4 linked regions of the Homo sapiens genome follow. The protein of the gene in region 1 purifies or fractionates together with the protein of each later gene. This does not show direct contact. Each region holds a gene or a part of one and is shown on either strand. Other genes may lie near its edges.

Region 1 (3,880 bases):
GTGTGGTAGAACACCAGTAGGGTGTTCTATTACCGAGTTTTTATATGTTTGATAAATGTGCAAATTATATGACATTGCCATTTTGTTCCAGGTGTATTCCATTCACTTTTGTTGGACAAATTTATAAGTATACAGTACATCATTCTAATAATCTTGGTCAGCACTTATTTTGTACTTCCTCCATACTGTTGAGAATCTTTTCAAAGGTTAACTTATTTAATTATCACAACAGCAACCCGATGAGTAGGTAACAGTATTTTACTGATAGGTAATCTAAAGAAGGAGGCTAAATAAATTGCCCAATTTCGAACAGTGAGAGGAAGAATTAGGATTGAAACACATATAGTGGCTTCAGAATCTGTAACCCTCACGATGCCACTACTACTTCTTTCAGAATACCCTTTGCCTATCTATTCTGTTCCTATGTCATCAAATTATACTTACTTTAAAAAGTATTTGTCTTTATTATTTTTAAAAAAACACAGGGAAGTATTTCTGATCAGGGGCAGTATTGGTTCTGAAAGACAAGCCAGTGTTTTTGAGGGTTTCTCCCTTGCCAGTTTTTCTATGCTGGGTTATTCAAGTCCTAAGAATTGTGTAGCTATTACAGAACCGCTTTAGCAAATGTGTTCCATTAATCAAGGTGATTTATAACAAAATTTCATCCAAGTTTGGAGTGCTCTGAAAACATAGCCAAAATGTTCGCAGGGTCTACCCCTCTCGTGTGTCCCTTTTTTTAGCTATTTCAGAAGCACACTGGTGCAATATTTTACGAAATGAGTTTCTTCCCCTTACCTCTGCATCCTCTAAGAAAAATCATTGTTGTTTATGAGATGAAGATCCTGCTATTCATATCTTGATTGAGCTGCTTAATAAAATGAACAATATTAAAATATGTTTTGAATTCCAGGCAAAAAAAGTTTATTCTTGTATGTAGGTGCTTCAGAAAGCAAAACACCAAAATTGTTCATTGGAACCTAGCCTGTAGAGTTTAGCATATCAAAGAAATAGCATTGTTTGTAGGTTGGCAGAAAAGAACATAAACAAATCATTGGTTAAGTGATGTAGTGATGTGGGATCATTTTATTCTTTCCAGAGTTCTTTTTTGTTTGTTTGTTTTCCATTCCAGAGTTTTAAAAGACCACATGGCAAGCAACGCTTATAAATCAGCTTTATTTTTTACTGTTAGGTATTTGGAAACTAAGCAGTTCCTATTAAGATGCTGTTGCTGGCCGGCCGCGGTGGCTCACGCCTGTAATCCCAGCACTTTGAGAGGCCAAGGCAGGCAGATCACCTGAGGTCAAGAGTTTGAGACCAGCCTGCCCAGCATGGTGAAACCCTGTCTCTGCTAAAAATGCAAAAAATTAGCCAGGCGTGGTGGCAGGCGCCTGTCATCTCAGCTACTTGGGAGGCTGAGGCAGGAGAATCGCTTCAACCTGGGAGGTGGAGGTTGCAGTGAGCCGAGATCGCGCCACTGCACTGCAGCCTGGGCAACAAGAGCGAAACTCCGTCTCAAGAAAAGAAAAGAAAAAAAAAGATGCTGTTTGCTTTCCTTATTTTGAAGGTACTGAAGCCAATAATTCTTTCCTGGGGTTATGTATGAACTGAGCATTGGCTACTGTAAAGATATGAGATTAATTTGTGACTCTCAAAAGAAACAAATTGTCATAAGCTCAGACATCTTGAGTATGTTGCCTTTCTGTATATTCTACAGGAATTCCTCAGTTTGCTGCTTGAAGCCACTGCTTTATCAGAAAAAATAATTTAGTTGGAAGTAGGAGCATGTAGCAAATAAGAAATAAATAAAATGAGTTGGCATTCTCCTATTGGTTTGCACAGCAGGCAAAATGCAAAGTAAACCTCTATTTAATTCCCTTAGGGAATGTAGGGCCAGGGCTCAGAAATACACTATAATTTTGTTATAAAGCCAATTAAAAGAAGAAGAAAAGCACTCATAATGTTTATTAGTATAATATTGTGTGATAATCCAGGACTATGCTTTTAATCCATGGGATAACTATGAAATAGGCATTTTGAAATATGGTAAATTCCTATCAACAAACATGTTGTAAAATCTGCATCTAAACAAACTCCCATGACACCACATCCTCCTATAGGGAAGAGTTGTGTATAGTTACTCCACTCTGAGCTTCATATTATTTTTTCGAACTCATTCCAGTTAGACTTTGGTCTCCACCACTTCACTGATGGTTCTTGTCAAAGTCGCTAATGACTTCTCTTGTTGTCTCTCCAGTGATCAACTCTCAGTCCTCATCATACTTGACCTATTGTTAATATTTGAAATAGTTGTTCTCAAAACCTGGTTTCACTTAGTTTTTGGGACACTGCTTTTTCTAGGTTTTTTTCCTATCTTTCTTCTGAATTTCCTTTATTGGTTCCTCCTCATATCCAAACATTGGAATGACCTTCAAACCCTGAAGTTAACTAAAGGTTCATATTTTAAACTTCTGTTGTTTATCTACACTTATACTTTAGCTGACCTCATCCTGTCTCATGGTTTTATGTACAGTACTTTTTAACTTACTCTCAAATTTATATCAAGTATAACCTCTTCCCTGAACTCCAGAGTCATGTCTAATTGTCTAATATCTTCACTTTAATGAATAATGGTCATCTCAAACTTACTGTATCCAAAGCTAAAATCCTGATTTTCTGTCCCAAAATGGCTCCTTCCATACACTTCCCATCATATGGGGAAGAAAACCCCATGCTACTTGTTCAGGCCACAAACCTTAGAGTTATCCTTACTCTCCTCTTTCACCCTACATCCAATCCCGTAGCAAATCATGATTATACCTTCTATATATAATCAGAATCAAACCACGTTTTGCCACTGTCACTGCTACCATCCATTAGTTTGCAAGATAAACTCATCTCTCTCATTTTGTTGCAATAATTTTTGAACTGTTTTCTTTGCTTATACCCTTCCGATTTTCTGGCATCTCTACCCTTTCCATTATACTCTCCACACCGCAGCTAAGGTCATCCTTTTTGATGATGATGCTTTTTAAGAGCAATTATGTCACTCTTCTGCTTAAAGACCCCAGTGGCTCCCCATCTCACTTACAGTAAAAGCCATAGGCCTTATGGTGGCCTGCAAGACCCTGCATAATCATTTTGCCTGCTGCCTTTCTTGTAATTATTGTGTCATTGGAACACAATAATGCCCATTCATTTATCTGTTGTCTGTGTTTGCTTTCTCTAAAATGTCAAAGTTGAATAGTTGTGACAGAAACTATATGGCTTGCAACACCTGGACTATTTCCTATTTGTCCCTTTTCAGGAAAAGTTTGCTGACCCCCTGATCTAGAGCATAAGATTCTTGGTGACAGGGACTCATTTTAATCGCAGTTGATTTCATATCATTTCAACTGTGATTTGGCATCTAGTAGATTTTTTAAAATTCTTGAAGGGTGGACAGATCTAGATATATATGAATAGGGTGCTAGTTTCTTTTCTACTTCTACTCCTTTTTTTCTACTAGTTTCTACTGCAAACTTGCTCCCAAGTAAATGCATGATGTTACAACTTCTCAGAAGATGTTCATGGAGCCTACCACGCTGCTGAACTGCCCAATCTGTGGTCATTCTAGTCTTCATAGACTTGAAAGCTAAGCTATTTCCAGTGATAAGACTACCTGACCACCTTATGACAATGGCAGGTGAAAGTTGTAGAAAATATTGGAATGTTCCTCTTACGGTGTACCAGGAGAGCAGAGTGCTGATTAAATGTTTCTTTTCCTAAGTGACTTCTATTTAGGACTGCATATTTTTCAGGCCTTTCTTTAAGCAGAATAAAAATTCACCAGGCTCTGAATTGACTTATCACTATGGAATACTGAACTTAGTTAAGATTAAGT
Region 2 (3,500 bases), on another chromosome or scaffold:
CAGGCACCCGCCACCACGCCCAGCTAATTTTTTTTTTGTATTTTAAGTAGAGATGGTGTTTCACCATGTTGGCCAGGCTGGTCTTGAACTCCTGACCTCAGGTGATCCAACCACCTCGGCCTCCCAAAGTGCTGGGATTACAGGCGTGAGCCACCGTGTCTGGCAAAATTAGTAGATTTTAAACACAACAGTATTTGCTAGATCATTAACCTAAGGAAGCAGTCAATGTGAGGGCACAAAAGAAAAAAGGTCAACCCCCAATCTCTTCGATTTAACTGTGGCTTGGTATGCCAGATATTTATAGAAAGAGTGGCTCTAAAGATAAAGAACATCTGTTCCAATTATAGACCTACATTATATAAAACAATCTAATATAGCATTGATTCACACTAATTCAAACAATGGAATAATGAAATACTAAAAATAAAACTATTTTTTACTTGGCCTCAGATTTTCCATATTAGGCTACTATTTTGAAAATGCAAAGAAAAATACTTAAAAGGAAAACTCCAGGATTGATGTCAATACTTGTAAAGAATAAAAAGTTAAATTTAAGATCCTTTCTTGACTGCTGGTTATATTAACAAACTATGACTGATGGACTATCTTTCTCAACAAATATCAAAATTTCCTTTAAGCTACTTGACTGTCACTTTAAAAGAATGAGTTTTGAGTAATACCTAATGAAAAAGTCAATTATTGGCCGGGCGCAGTGGTTCACACCTCTAATCCTAGCACTTTGGGAGGCCGAGGTGGGTGGATCACGAGGTCAGGAGATCGAGACCAGCCTGGCCAACATGGTGAAACCCCGTCTCTACTAGAATACAAAAAATTAGGCAGGTGCAGCGGTACGCGCCTGTAGTACCAGCTACTCAGGAGGCTGAGACAGGAGAATCGCTTGAACCCAGGAGGTGGAGGTTGCAGTGAGCTGAGATCATGCCATTGCACTCCAGCCTGGGCAACAGAGAGAGACTCCATCTCAAACAAACAAACAAAAAAAGTCAACTATTTTAAAAATAGATACTCACTTAAAAACATCATAAAGCCACATTCCACCAGTTATAAACACAAGCAGTCATCATTTTCTAAAAACTGAGTAAGAAATTCTATGTTGGTATGTTTACTCTTAAAAGGTGAAGATTTACCAAGATTTAATAATCTAACACTGGAATTTTCCTTTAAAATGTGAGGGAATATGTGGCGATGTTTACCATATATTAACAGACATTCATTTAGACACATTTTGACTCACTTCCTTGTCCTTTACATAGACTGAGAAGCCAGTTAACTCCCTAACAGACAAGAAAGAAAAACTGTAAATGTTATAGGTTTATGTTTGAGGCACACATCTTTGCTCCTAGCTGTAAGAGCACTACAGAATGAAGGATATGTACTGCTGACAAATGCAGACTCATACAGGTGCTCTAAGAATGATGGCAATGAAAATCAAGCAGTGGATGCTATAAAGCTGAGATGCTTTAACATTACTATTTTCAAAAAAAAGTCCTACAAATATCCACAGGTCATTATGAAGGAGATTATGGTATATTTCTAATAAAGTAAGGAATAGTATCCTTCAAAGTTTATAATTAAAATGGCTTCTTGGCCGGGCGTGGTGGCTCATGCCTGTAATCCCAGCACTTTGGGAGGCCAAGGCAGGCGGATCACCTAAGGTCAGATCGAGACCATCCTGGCCAACATGGTGAAACCCCGTCTCCACTAAAATGCAAAAAAGTAGCTGGGCGTGGTGGCACACGCCTGTAGTCCCAGCTACTCGGGAGGCTGAGGTAGGGGAATCGCTTGAACCCGGGAGGTGGAGGTTGCAGTGAGCCAAGATTGTGCCACTGCACTCCAGCCTGGCAACACAGCAAGACTCCACCTCACAAAAAAAAAAAAAAAAAAAAAAAAGGCTTCTTACAAAAGGAAGATACCTTGAGCATTGCAGCAGACATTCTTCATCTGTGCAACAAGATTATTCTTGGAGTAAGAGAAGACTTTCATAGGTTACCAGAACAGGATTTAGTATACAGCATCCAGGCTTATGATGAGAGAGGTTAATTCATAATAAACTTTCAAGTGTTTTTAATAGCAGCCACCATCATACTGAAGAAATAGCTTCAAAAACTCAGAAAATAGTAAATAATACCTTAATATGAGGAGGTGCTTAAACATGTTCTCATCAAGTTTGGTTACTTTTAAAGTTCAGCAAGACTTGGATGAAGCAGCACTAACTAAAATACACCAGGCCCCTACTGCTTAGATTTCGTATCTTTTAAAGGCAGGAGGATGCACCTGTCATTTTACCTATAAAATTCCTTATTGTTAAGCACAAGTTGCACAAAACAGTTTTTCAATAAAATGAGCAAGGCAGGAGACATGACAGTATTATTAGAATATTAAATACTGATATATTCTCACATTCATGAATTTATTTGGTATTTATAAAAGTAACAGAAAAAATACTATTCTTCTCATTTTATAAATAAAAAAGTAGTAAAGCTCACAAATTGGTAACTTGCCCAAGTTCACACTGCACACAGCTTGTATGCACCTAAACTCAAACTAGACACCAGATCTTTTTTTGTTTGTTTTTTTGTTTTTTTTGAGATGGAGTTTCACTCTTGTTGCCCAGGCTGGAGTGCAATGGCACCACGTCGGCTCACCGCAACCTCTGCCTCCTGGGTTCAAGCGATTCTCCTGCCTCAGCCTCCAGAGTAGCTGAGATTACAGGCATGCGCCACCACACCCGGCTAATTTTATATTTTTAGTAGAGACGGGGTTTCTCCATGTTGGTCAAGCTGGTCTCGAACTCCCAACCTCAGATGATTCACCCACCTCGGCCTCCCAAAGTGCTGGGATTACAGGCATGAGCCACCATGCCCAGCCGACACCAGATCTTTTGATTTTAGTTAAAGGTGTTTTCTTCACTATAATATGCTGCCAAATCAAACACAAAGACATATTCTACACATAAATAAGGATAAAAGAATCTTACAGTATTAATTTTCAAAACAAAGGAATAAAACCACCCCCATTACCAAATGTGTACACCTATGGAAGGCAAAAAATGAAGTTCTAAAAAAGTATTTTTGCCACCTGGAAGTGTTTTGCAAATAAATCATTATTTCCTATAATAAGAAATATCAAAGTCTTCTCTGCCTATGGAGTAGCCATTCTTTATTCCTTTATTTTATTAATAAACTCACTTTCACTTAAAAACAAAAACAAACACAAGGAGGCCAGGTGCAGTGGCTCCTGCCTGTAATCCCAGCAATTTGGGAGGCTAAGGGGGGAGGACAACTTGAGCCCAGAAGTTTGGGACCAACCTGGGCAAATGGTGGAGACCATCTCTATTTAAAAAAAAGAAAAAAAAAATTGGCCGGGCATGGTGGCTCCCACCTGTAACCCCAGCACTCTGTGAGGCCGAGGTGGGTGGATCACCTGAAGTCGGGAGTTCAAGACCAGCCTGACCAACATGGAGAAACCCAGTCTCTACTAAA
Region 3 (3,500 bases), on another chromosome or scaffold:
AGTACTAATTGATGCGGCCCATTGGCTCTCCTTTTCCCAGGAATTCCCAGAGAAGCAGGAACTGCATAGGAATATGCTAGGACTTTTGGGGAATGTGGCAGAAGTGAAGGAGCTGAGGCCTCAACTAATGACTTCCCAGTTCATCAGCGTCTTCAGGTTGGTATTTTTAATCCTTTCCCTTTTTGCCTTAGCTGCCACAATGCTCAGAGCTCTAGCGTTTGCTCAGTTGCACAACTGCTCTTAGCCTAGGTTTGCTATAAATGTCATTTTCCCTCGATAATGTGGTTTCTTATTCATTCAATCCTTCGTAAGTGGTCCTTTTGTAATTATATCTTTTTTTTTTTTTTTGAGATGGAGTCTTGCTCTGTCACCCAGGCTGAAGTGCAGTGGCACAATCTAGGCTCACTGCAAGCTCTGCCTCCCGGGTTCACGCCATTCTCCTGCCTCAGCCTCCCGAGTAGCTGAGACTACAGGCGCCTGCCACCACGCCCAGCTAATTTTTTTGTATTTTTAGTAGAGATGGGGTTTCACCATGTTAGCCAGGATGGTCTCGATCTCCGGACCTCGTGATCCACCTGCCTTGACCTCCCAAAGTGCTGGGATTACAGGCGTGAGCCACTGCGCCCAGCCTGTAATTATATCTTAAATGACCTCAAATCCCTTTAGAAGTAGTCTGGGTATATAGACGATATGGGATAAAGAAATAAGTAGCACCTCTTGCTTCTGGTTTTAAGTTGGGGTCCTGCCGCTGGTATCTGAAGAGAAACTGGGGGAGTGGGACTCCATTTTTCTGTCTTTCTCCTGGCAGCAACCTGTTGGAGAGCAAGGCCGATGGGATCGAGGTTTCCTACAATGCCTGCGGCGTCCTCTCCCACATCATGTTTGATGGACCCGAGGCCTGGGGCGTCTGTGAGCCCCAGCGTGAGGAGGTGGAGGAACGCATGTGGGCTGCCATCCAGAGCTGGGACATAAACTCTCGGAGAAACATCAATTACAGGTGTGGGCAGGGCAGGGAGCGGGGATGCGGTGTGGAATATGGGGTAAGTGCTGGGCAGGATGCTCATACCATTAAGGTCTGCTCAGAGCTCCCACCTTCCTTCTGGTCTTCTGTAGGGTTCTGCTTTCACTCATTGATACGTAGCCGCACACAGCACAGAGCATACATAAGGGCACGATCTCATCCGTGCAGCCTGGAGCATTTGTCATACATGCCAACATCTGCATGTACCCAAAGCCTGCTCTTTGCAAACCACTAATACCTACTGATTTGTGGGGAGGGGTGGGGAGAAAATAGACACACAACAGAAAACCATACAGGTGGGCCGGGCACAGTAGCTCTTGCCCATAATCCCAGCACTTTGGGAAGCTGAGACAGGAGGATCACTTGAGCCCAAGATTTCCTTTCTTTTCTTTTTTTTTTTTTTTTGAGACAGAGTCTTGCTCTGTCGCCCAGGCTGGAGTGCAGTGGTGCAATCTCAGCTGACTGCAAGCTCTGCCTCCTGGGTTCACGCCATTTTCCTGCCTCAGCCTCAGAGTAGCTGGGATTACAGGCACCCGCCACCACGCCCGGTTAATTTTTTTGTATTTTTAGTAGAGACGAGTTTTCACCGTGTTAGCCAGGATAGTTTCGATCTCCTGACCTCGTGATCCGCCCACGTCGGCCTCCCAAAGTGCTGGGATTACAGGCATGAGCCACTGCGTCCAGCTGAGCCCAAGATTTCAAGACCAGCTTGGGCAACATAGTGAGACTTCCTCTTTACGAAAAATTTTAAAAATCAGGCCAGGTGCAGTGGTTCACGCCTGTAATCATAGCACTTTAGGAGGCTGAGGCGGGCAGATCACGAGGTCAGGAGTTCAAGACCAGCCTGCCCAACATGGTGAAACCCCGTCCCTACTAAAAATACAAAAATTAACCTGGCGTGGTGGCACATACCTGTAATCCCAGCTACTCAGGAGGCTGAGGCAGGAGAATCGCTTGAACCCAGGAGGCAGAGGTTGCAGTGAACCGAGATGGCGCCACTGCATTCCAGCCTGGGCAACAGACCAAGACTCCATCTCAAAAAAAAAAAAAAAAAAAAATGAGCTGGGTGTGATGGTGCACACCTGTAGTCCCACCTACTGGGGAGGCTGAGGCAGGAGGGTCACTTGAGCCCAGGAGGTCGAGGCTGTAGTGAGCCAACATCATGCTACTGCACTCCAGCCTAGGGGACAGAATGAGACCATTTCTTTAAAAAAAAGAAGAAGGTCAGGCGCGGTGGCTCACACCCGTAATCCCAGCACTTTGGGAGGCAGAGGCGGGCGGATCATGAGGTCAGGAAATCGAGACCATCTTGGCTAACGCAGTGAAACCCCACCTCTACTAAAAATACAAAAAATTAGCCGGGCGTGGTGGCATGCGCCTGTAGTCCCAGCTACTCGGGAGGCTGAGGCAGGAGAATGGTGTGAACCTGGGAGGCGGAGCTTGCAGTTAGCCGAGATCGCGCCACTGCACTCCAGCCTGGGCGACAGAGCGAGACTCCGTCTCAAAAATAAATAAATAAAAATAAAAATAAAAATAAATTAAAAAAACAAGAAAACAAAACAGGGCCGGGCACAGTGGCTCACACCTGTAATCCCAGCACTTTGGGAGGCAGAGGCGGGCAGATCATGAGGTCAGGAAATCGAGACCATCTTGGCTAACGCAGTGAAACCCCACCTCTACTAAAAATACAAAAAATTAGCCGGGCGTGGTGGCATGCGCCTGTAGTCCCAGCTACTCGGGAGGCTGAGGCAGGAGAATGGCGTGAACCTGGGAGGCGGAGCTTGCAGTTAGCCAAGATCGCGCCACTGCACTCCAGCCTGGGCGACAGAGCGAGACTCCGTCTCAAAAATAAATAAATAAAAATAAAAATAAAAATGAATAAAAAAAACAAGAAAACAAAACAGGGCCGGGCACAGTGGCTCACACCTGTAATCCCAGCACTTTGGGAGGCTGAGGCAGGCGGATCACCTGAGGTCAGGAGTTCGAAACCAGCCTGGCCAACACAGTGAAACCCCATCTCTGCTAAAAATACAAAAATTAGCCAGGCATGGTGGTGGGCACCTGTAATCCCAGCTACTTGGGAGGCTGAGGCAGGAGAATCACTTGAACCTGGAAGGCAGAGGTTGCAGTGAGCCAAGAACTCGCCACTGCACTCCAGCCTGGGCAACAGAGTGATACTCCATCTCAAAAAAAAAAGAAGAAGAAGAAAACAAGAATCGTTCATAATCTCACTCCCTGAAAGAGAACTCCTGTTGACATTTTGGTGTGTCTCCTTCCAGCAGTGTTTCTATGCACAGATTTCATTACTTTAAGTCAAGCTGGCATCAATTCCTACTGTTTTGTGACTGACTGGCCAATCACCAGGCATGGATCTCCCTCGTCATTTTAGGACGGAGTCACTTTCTTTGTGCCATCCTGTACAGATGGACATTTCAGTTGAAAACCCATACTGGGAGGAACAGGCTGACATTGGTAGCGT
Region 4 (3,500 bases), on another chromosome or scaffold:
CCAGCAGCTAGCAGGCAATGGAGCAATGCCTTCAACATTCTGCAGGAAAACACATTCCAAGCTTTCCTGCAGATTCTCTATTCAGCCGAATTATAAATCCAAGGATGAGGGTAGAATAAAGATATCTACAGGCTGCAAGGTCTCAAAAACACATACCTCCCATGCACCCTTTCTCAGGAAGCTACTGGAAGATGTGTTCCACCAAAATAAGGGAGTAATCAAAAAAGATAAAAACGCGATATAGGAGCACCAGTAGAGGACAGACGTGAAAGGGGTACCCAGGATGGTGATGAAGAAAGATCCCAGGATGACAGCAGTGCACACCAGACAAACCAGCCCAGATTTGAGCAGGTCAGAAGGCTCCAGGGAGATTTCTTTGGGTAGTTTAAATTTTGATAGACTGTCTAATGCTTTTGAACCTCTTAAAAGGAGATTTAAATAGTTGGTGAAGCATTTGGGGGTTGGATTAGTTATAAGAATTATACATAGAAAATTAAACAAAAGGACAAGACATTAACTCCAGGTAAAACAAAGTTGTGAAGGAAGAAAAAAAAATCAGAGTTTACTATTTGGCTTATCTCTGAATAATAAATATTCAGTCAAAATGATTTAAATACTGGCCGGGTGCAGTGGCTCATTCCTGTAATCTCAGCACTTTGGGAGGCCAAAGCGGGCAGATCACATGAGGTCAGGAGTTCGAGATCAGCCTGGCCAATGTGGTGAAACCCTGTCTCTACTAAAATACAAAATTTAGCCGGGCATGGTGGCGGGCACCTGTAACCCCAGCTACTTGCGAGGCTGAGGCAGGAGAATCGCTTGAACCTGGAAGGCTGAGGTTGTAGTAACCTGAGATCGTGCCACTGCACTTCAGCCTGGGTGACAGAGCAAGACTCCCTCTCAAAAAAAAAAAAAAAAAAGATTGAAATACGGATATAACCAACATTATGGTTTAGCTCCTGGAATAATGAGGAGAATGGGAAGTACGTGTTTGTGGTGGAGTCCTAGTAGGAGAGAGAACTAGAAATTCTCATCTTCTTTGGTAGATAGATGATAAATAATGCCCCAAAATGAAAAAAAAAATGGAAACTAGCAATACAAGCATGTTATTTAAGGACATAGAATTAAGTACCAAAATAATCAACTAAGGTAGATAGATGTTCTCATCTCTGGGGAAGGGTAGTACAGGGAGGTGGGTTGCAAGGAGTGCAATTTTTTCTTAACAAAATTTGTAAAACTGTTGGACTGATTTAACTGTGTGTCTATATAACTTTGGTTAAAAAAATAAATATTAAAAACCAAATTGATTAAAGACTTAAGAGCATGAAGTTTGGAAACAGATCTGGGTTTGTTTGAGTCTTTCTTGCCACTTATTAATGGTGTGACCTTGAGCAGTTTATTTAACTACACCTATTTTCTCATCTGAAACATGAGGACATTACTTACACATTTGTTGTAAGGATTAAATTATGTAATTTTTTTTTTTTTTTTTTGAGACGGAGTCTCACTCTGTCGCCCAGGCTGGAGTGCAGAGGCACAATCTCGTCTCACTGCAACCTCCACCTCCTGGGTTCAAGCAATTCTCCTGCCTCAGCCCCCTGAGTAGCTGGGACTACAGGCACGTGCCACCACGCCTGGCTAATTTTTATATTTTTTTAGTAGAGACGGGGTTTCGCCATGTTGGCCAGGCTGGTCTCAAACTTCTGACCTCAGGTGATCCACCCACCTTGGCCTCCCAAAGTCCTGGGTTACAGGTGTGAGCCACCACGCCCAGCCAATGTAATTTATTTATTTATTTATTTATTTTTTTGACACGGAGTTTCACTCTTGTTGCCCAGGCTGGAGTGCAATGTTGCGATCTCGGCTCATCGCAACCTCTGCCTCCCGGGTTCAAGCAATTCTCCTGCCTCAGCCTCCCGAGTAGCTGGGATTACAGGCATGCGCCACCATGCCCGGCTAATTTTGTATTTTTAATAGAGACAGGGTTTATCCATGTTGGTCAGGCTGGTCTTGAACTCCCGACCTCAGGTGATCCTCCCACCTTGGCCTCCCAAAGTTCTGGGATTACAGGCATGAGCCACCACGCCCAGCCTCAATGTAATATTTTTAAGTGCACGTAGTATAGTATGTAGCACATTCAAGCTATTATTTTGGGAGATTACTTCCCTAGTTTAGAGCAAGCAATTAAAATCACAGGAATAGAAAAAGGTAAACTAGCCAGGATCTCCCATTTGTCTAGAGTAGGTGGGATGATTTCTGATTTACAGGGTGATCCCAGAATGGACTATCAGGGTGTTTTGAGCCAGGTTGATTGAGCACTGGGCTCCAACTTATTGTTAATGAGAAATGGCCCAACTTGGACCATGACTTTCCCATTTGCAGGTCTTAGAATAATTTTTTTTTTAATTGAGACAGGGGTTCGCTGTGTTGCCCAGGCTGGCCTCGAGCTCCTGGGTTCAAGTGATCCTCTGCCTCAACTTCCTGAGTAGCTGGGATTACAGGTGCTTGCCACCATCCCCAGCACAGTCTTGGAAGAATTTTAAGAAGCTTACTTCATTGAAAAAAGAGGAAAGTGAAAATGTGCTAAGTATATGAAAGGGAAAGCTTGGATTAAAGATGAGAAACATTTTTAGACTATAACATGTTAAAGAGAGATACTATAGGCTTTATGTTTTAGTCAACTTCTTTTACCTATAGGGACCAATAGATAAAGTCTTAACCTGGAGACAGGGGTTGGATGAAATGGTTTCTAAGAGGTTTATCCAGGTTTTGTGGAAACAATAGGAACAAGACAGATAAAATAAGGGGTCTTATTAAAAAATAATGCTCTAAATATTTGAGATACTAGAACACTATTTTGTTTTCTGTCTCTTTTGATTGGGAGTTTTTATGTGGAAGGAAGCTACTAACTATCCCACCCTATGCAGAGACCCCAGAATCCAACAATAGCGTGTATACTTCCTTCATGAAGTCTCATCGCTGCTATGACCTGATTCCCACAAGCTCCAAATTGGTTGTATTTGATACGTCCCTGCAGGTGGGTGAAATCCTCTTTTCCCTTCCCCCTTTGGAGCCTGTGGTTTAATACCTCTCATCCTATCTCATCCTAAGGGTAATATCCTTATCCTTCTGTGAAGTTAGTCTCATGTTTTACCCAACATGCCCAAACACTGTTCTTTTTTTACAGTCCTGCCCCTGTGGATTTGCCTTTATGATTATTACTGTCTTGGCTACAGGTGAAGAAAGCTTTTTTTGCTTTGGTGACTAACGGTGTACGAGCTGCCCCTTTATGGGATAGTAAGAAGCAAAGTTTTGTGGGTAAGCAAAAGTTTCTGGAACACAATATTATTGGCATCTTGTGCTGGGCAGGGAGACAAGCTTCAGGCAGTGCTGAGGGCTCTGTCTTGTCCTCTAGGCATGCTGACCATCACTGATTTCATCAATATCCTGCACCGCTACTATAAATCAGCCTTGGTAAGGAACCTTAACCCAATGACCAAAAT

What was found. Proteins that work in one complex are often made in the same cells at the same time.
Region 2: the proteins of IMMP1L (region 1) and ANAPC7 purify together in Homo sapiens (affinity purification with mass spectrometry; one large-scale study listed by BioGRID and IntAct). This does not show direct contact.
Region 3: the proteins of IMMP1L (region 1) and ZER1 purify together in Homo sapiens (affinity purification with mass spectrometry; 2 studies listed by BioGRID and IntAct, with this or other methods). This does not show direct contact.
Region 4: the proteins of IMMP1L (region 1) and PRKAG1 purify together in Homo sapiens (affinity purification with mass spectrometry; one large-scale study listed by BioGRID and IntAct). This does not show direct contact.

Annotation. Positions count from the first base shown.
Region 1 is NC_000011.10:31,450,402-31,454,281, reverse strand, and holds part of IMMP1L (mitochondrial inner membrane protease subunit 1), read left to right. Parts: intron 1-3,880. UniProt on the Homo sapiens protein: Catalyzes the removal of transit peptides required for the targeting of proteins from the mitochondrial matrix, across the inner membrane, into the inter-membrane space. Known to process the nuclear encoded protein DIABLO.
Region 2 is NC_000012.12:110,390,209-110,393,708, forward strand, and holds part of ANAPC7 (anaphase-promoting complex subunit 7), read right to left. Parts: intron 1-3,500. UniProt on the Homo sapiens protein: Component of the anaphase promoting complex/cyclosome (APC/C), a cell cycle-regulated E3 ubiquitin ligase that controls progression through mitosis and the G1 phase of the cell cycle.
Region 3 is NC_000009.12:128,737,428-128,740,927, reverse strand, and holds part of ZER1 (protein zer-1 homolog), read left to right. Parts: intron 1-40; coding exon 41-156; intron 157-808; coding exon 809-997; intron 998-3,500. UniProt on the Homo sapiens protein: Serves as substrate adapter subunit in the E3 ubiquitin ligase complex ZYG11B-CUL2-Elongin BC. Acts to target substrates bearing N-terminal degrons for proteasomal degradation with the first four residues of substrates being the key recognition elements.
Region 4 is NC_000012.12:49,005,277-49,008,776, reverse strand, and holds part of PRKAG1 (5'-AMP-activated protein kinase subunit gamma-1), read left to right. Parts: intron 1-177; exon of another isoform or gene 178-351; intron 352-2,924; coding exon 2,925-3,034; intron 3,035-3,184; exon of another isoform or gene 3,185-3,233; coding exon 3,234-3,315; intron 3,316-3,385; coding exon of another isoform or gene 3,386-3,412; coding exon 3,413-3,471; intron 3,472-3,500. UniProt on the Homo sapiens protein: AMP/ATP-binding subunit of AMP-activated protein kinase (AMPK), an energy sensor protein kinase that plays a key role in regulating cellular energy metabolism.